2 separate regions of the Homo sapiens genome follow, and region 2 is linked to region 1. The links come from fine-mapping of genetic effects on gene expression. Tissue or cell type: blood mononuclear cells. Region 1 holds a variant in brackets; the other region holds the start of a gene. All regions are shown on one strand. Distances are from middle to middle.

Region 1 (2,738 bases):
CCGGGGAAGGATGTAGTCTGGTGGAGGCTGGCCTCTCAAAATAATGCCATGCTGCAGGTGTCTTGATCTTGGGGTGTGTGGGGGACCCAGAGTGAAGTTCTTCTCTGGACTAATGGCATTGGAGGACTTGAGGATGCTCCTTAGACTAGTCTCAGGGCCCACAAGGGCTGAGGGGCTCTCCTGTGGCTAGGACTGTAAGAGTCAGTGTGGCAATGTAGACTGCTGAAGATCTCTTGCTTACCTTCTCTCTGCACTGGGGGGTTTCTCCTGGCTCCGAGCTGATTGCAGCTGGACCAGCTGCTTTGCTTCCCTCTCCTTCCAAGCCTCAGATGTTCCCTGTCACTTCTCTGATGAATTCCATTGTTCTCTTAGAAGCTCCACTTGTTATGTGATTGTTCAGTTTTGGTCCTTCTTTGTGCAGAAGTGCCAGGTGTCGCTAGTCAGCTATCTTGAAACCCTTCTCTCTGGATGTACAAAATACTGTTTACACTTCGAGGTTTGTTCTGGGATGCTCGCAGATCTCATCCCATATAAGTAGTGAGGGAAAAAAGAGGTGGTTGCCTAAGGTTTCTCCTTCTATCTCTGATTGGCTCAACATCCACTGGGCAACACACATCAACCTTTCAAGACAAGAACGGTAGGTGATGTGTGGAGTGGTGATGGTGTATGTGAAAACCCTTGGCTTCCTTTACATGATCGTAGTCTGAAAGATGGAGACTACATGGAGAATGTCTCAAGAAAATTCCTCCTTTCACACTCCTCTGACGATACCACAGACCGACTCCTCACAGATGAGCAAAAGCTTGGGTGGGAGCTTATTTCTTCTCCCACTGTGCTTCAACTTCTCAAGGAATTGTAGAATGAGAGAGAGCAGAGGATTTTTAATATTTGCTGATTATCCACTATGTGCAAGCTTCGTATAAACAATAGGTAGTATAATCTCCATTTTATAGTTGAGGAAACTGAGACTGGAGATTAAATCATTTGCTGGAAGACACAAAGCCAGTAATTAGTAGACTCAGGACTTGAGCAAGACTGTCCATCTTCAGAGCCCACAGTCTTTCCATGACACCAGCAATGCACAGTTAGGTCCACAGGGACTCTCTCACATCTACTCTGTGCTCTCATTCTTGGCATCCAAAGAATGTTAGGCACTGAGAACCGCTATGGACTGAATGTCTGTGTCCCCCCAAATGTCATATGTTGAAACTGAATCCCCACTCCGATGGTGTTTGAAGGTGGGCCCTTTGGGAAATGAAGTCATGAGGGGGAGGGAGCCCTCATGAAAGGGATTAGTGGCCCCAGAGAGAGAACCCCTCACCCTTTCTGCCAAGTGACTGTGCAGCAAGAAGACAGCCATCTATGAACCACGAAGCAGACACTCACCAGACACCGAACCTACTGCA[T/C]TCCTGACCTTAGACTTCCGAACAGCCTCCAGAACTCTAAGAAATAAATTTCCTTTGTTTATAAACCACCCAGCCTATGGTATTTTGTTATAGCAGCCTGAACACATTGTGACAAGAATTCAAGCTACTAAGGATCACTTTAGCTGAGAAATGCTTGGGCAATTGGGTAGAAAGGCTGGCATAGTGCAAGTCAGAAAACTTCAGAGTCAAAATGGAGGGAGGGACTCCTCTCCCCTCCTACAGAGTGACAGAAAGGAGGGAAGAGTTCTGCTTTATGACAAAGCATTTTAAATAGCACGCAGATCCTCTAGAAAAGGATGCAGAGCCACAATGTGGGCAGAGGCTCGGGGACTGAGGGGGGAAACCAGAAGCTGAGTTTCTTTCCTCTAGTGCCAGAGAAATTTTCCAAGGTGGGATTGGGATTGTGGTGAATGACCTTGGATTGAGATCCAGGGGCTGTGGGAAAGCCATAGGAGCCCCAGACTATGAACATCTTATTTTTTTAATTTAATTTTTTAAAAAAGAGATGGGATGTCACTATGTTGCCCAGGCTGGTCTCAAACTCTTGGGTTCAAGTGATCCTCCTGCCTCAGCCTCCCAAAGTGCTGAGATTACAAGTGTGAGCCACTGTGCCTGGCCCAACTATGAACATTTTAATTGATAAATTAGAAAATGTTCAAAACACTTAAAATTGGGTAGTGATGCCAACAGCCCACCTCACCCATGCCAGGAGCCTTACCATGTTAAGCAGTGGTCCCAGCCTTTTTGGCACCAGGGACTGGTTTTGTAGAAGACAATTTTTCCACGGACCAGGGGGTGGTGGGGATGATTTCAGAATGAAACTTCCACCTCAGATCATTAGGCATTAGATTCTCATAAGGAGCATACAACCTAGACCTCTCTCCTGCACAGTTCACAATAGGGCTCACATTCCTATGGGAATCTAATGCCACTGCTGATCAGACAGGAGACAGAGCTCAGGTGGTAACGCTTGCTTGCCACTCACCACCTGCTGTATGACCCAGCTCCTAACAGGCCACAGAGCAGTACTGGTCTGCAGCCTGAGGGTTGAGAACCCCTGACGTAAAGCACCCCCTTTGTGAGAAAACAAGCTCTGGGCCTTTAATTCCTGCAGCCAGCTGCTCTGTGCACATGGGGTGAGGGGCAGGAGGGAGTCAGGCAGGAGACCTCTGGTCCCTGGCACAGCTATTCTCGCAACAGCCATTGGTCAATCTCCCCGGTCCCTACCACAGCCCCTCTGCTCTCTGTACCTGCCGGCCTCAATGCGGAGCCTCTCTGAGAAACAGCTCCTCCCTCGCCAGCCACCTTCTG
Region 2 (2,500 bases), 110 kb after region 1:
CCAGCACCAATCACTAACTATTAAGGAAGATAGTTTCACAACTTCCTAAAACAGAGGCATGGGATTCATTACCTATTTCTTTTGACTTCATTAATTTAACGCAAATTTCCTTCAGAATAATGAAACTAAGGAGAAAGTTGAACAAGCCCTGATTCAGACTGGACACCCCAGAATTCCTCTAGTTCGCATTTTAAGGAACCTGCTTTAGTGAGAAGTATGTGGCCCCATCCGAGGATGCAATTTCACAGCCAGGAGCAGCCGCGGTCCCCGCCAGGGATGCGGTCACGGGCGCTCGCACCCGGAAGCCGCTCAACAAGTTCCCCGCCGGCTTCGGCTCCGCACCCCCACCCAGCCAGGCTCTCCGCAGAATTTCCTCCCCGCACCTAAAGGCTGCACTTCATTTTCACACGCGGGAACGCCTCCTCCCGCTGCTCACCTCCACAACTCCCGGCACTCCCGCGACACTTCCCCACAGTCCCCTCCGCCCGCTCCCCTCACCCCGGCTCGGCACCCATCCTTTCCTAACCCCAAACTGCCCGGCGCCCCGGGCTCTCCGCGCCTGCGCCGCGCCCGAGGACCACCCCCGCCCAACCCCGGGTCCATCCGATCCTCGGCCCTCTGCGGCGGGGAGAGGGGGCGGACGGTGCACAAAGGTCACCCCGAGCTAACGGAGGCGGTCGGCGCGGGAAACGCGCTCACCCGCAGGGTGGGGGCGGGGTGCGAAAACCGAAGGAACGACGGAAGGCGCGGACCGGGGCGGGAGCCTCCCCGTCACCAGGGTCCCGCACCTCCCAGCTCCGGGAGGCGCGCAGGGCTGTGGCTCCCCGTCGCTCCACCGTCTGCGCTCCCAGGCAAGGTCCTCTGGGGCGCCTCGGAACTGCGCGCCCCCAGCCGCCAGCATGGTGGGCGCCGCGCCTCCGGCAGCACCCGGTCCCCGGCCCCTACCTCCAAGAGCAGCCCGAGCAGCAGCGCCGCCACCTTCGCAGGCTGGCGCCTCATGGCTCCTCGCGTCCTCTCCAGCGCGCCCGGACGCCGGGTCGCAGGCGCGCTTCGCGACTCGGCCCCCGCGCGGGGCGGGCGGGCAGACTGCAGCCGGGAGCCGTCCCGCCGACCGCTGGGGGGCCCGGCTGGGAGCGGGCGGGAGCCGGGGCGCGCCGCGCAGCCCTGGCTGCGCTCCGCCCCCGGCCGCCGCGCGCTCCCGACACGCCCGGCCGGGCGCGCGCCTGCGGGCTCCCGGAACCCGAGGCCCGGCCTGGGGCGCGGCTGCTGGGCGCTAGGCCCGCGACGCTGAGGTGCGCGCGCCCCGGGCGGGAGGAGGGGCTGCACCGCCTGGCGAATGGGAGGGGGACTGGCAGGCTCTCCCTTCCCAAGGGAGGTCGTCCTGTCGCCCTAGACTAAACCCAGGAAGGCTTTTAAAAGAAGCAGAGTCTCCGCGGGGGGAAGCTTGTTCCCTGAGAGGTGGCCGCAGACGAACCCACTGCTCAGTCTGGCATCCCGAAGCCGCTCCGCTCCTGGCTCTCCCCGCTGTTCCTGCGCGCAGCGGGGGCAGTGCCCCCACACCCACGCGTGATGGGAAGGCCGGCCTGGGGGTGGGAAGGCCCACCGAAATAGATGGTCCCCACACCTCACTGCTTCCTTGGATGTGGCTATTTTTTATGCCAGTGTTCTCCTGCTCTGACCCTACTTGAACTTGACCGCAACCGGCCCCGCCTTGCAGGCCACCCTCCCGCAGCAGAAAACTGTGCGGAGCTCGCGCTGTCCTCGCCTCCGCTGACCCCACCTCCATGTCCTCACAGACACTATTTTTTCACAACACAGCTCAGATCCCACCTTCTTCATGAGGTTATTCAACAAACACTATTAAACTTGTAAGATGTACCAGATCCTGAGTTGGAGGCTGAGAGGAGGACAAGAAAACTGCTCCCGTAGCCTAGAGGGAGGGAGAGTCGCTTAAACCACCTGATGCAGAATGCTGAGTGCGGAGACCAGGAGGTGGGTGCATCACAGAGGGTCATAAAGGACATGAGCTGCGCAGTACAGGAGGTGGAAGGAGGGGGTCACACGAACAGATGTCACCCGAGGCAAGTCCCCAACTCTTTCCCAGCTTTCAAAGCCTAATTTGATTAATATAGAGCATGCACCACCTGACTATACCTGTCAGAGCCAGAACTTACAAGTAAGACAGAAACAATGCCTATGGCCTTCAGTCATGCTAAGGCACCTATCTGACAAGCCTGCCAAACGCCATTGAACTCTAGTAGTTTTACTATTTACAATGAGGACATTTTACAACTCTTTTTAATGGAAAAGTTAACTTGTAGAAAACTAAGCTGAAAGCTTATTGTGTGTTAGCAAGACAAATGTTTTTCCAGTGGGGATAGAAGTGATCTCGTCCTGTAAAAATGCAAATGGGCCAGGCAGGGTGGCTCATGCCTATCATCCCAGCAGTCTGGGAAGCTGAGGTGTGAGAATTGCTTGAGCCCAGGAGTTCACCAACCCC

What was found. PIP is the estimated chance that this variant, and not a neighbour inherited with it, causes the effect.
Region 2: it holds the start of VOPP1, and the variant in region 1 is fine-mapped to the expression of VOPP1 in blood mononuclear cells (TOPMed, PIP above 0.99). The same link has a PIP of 0.9 or more in T cells and whole blood.

What each region holds. Positions count from the first base shown.
Region 1 is chr7:55,464,748-55,467,485 of GRCh38, forward strand. It overlaps a transcript of VOPP1 not described here. Among named protein-coding and RNA genes, the nearest start is that of LANCL2, 100 kb to the left of the region's middle. The variant T/C (reference allele first, on the strand shown) is at 1,407.
Region 2 is chr7:55,571,326-55,573,825 of GRCh38, forward strand. VOPP1 (VOPP1 WW domain binding protein) reads right to left here and starts at 1,177. Exons shown (of 5, transcript NM_030796.5): 1 at 946-1,177. The coding sequence starts at 999. It overlaps VOPP1-DT (VOPP1 divergent transcript), which reads left to right and starts at 1,441. Exons shown (of 17, transcript NR_187585.1): 1 at 1,441-1,992. RefSeq lists an enhancer at 171-230 and a silencer at 431-1,410.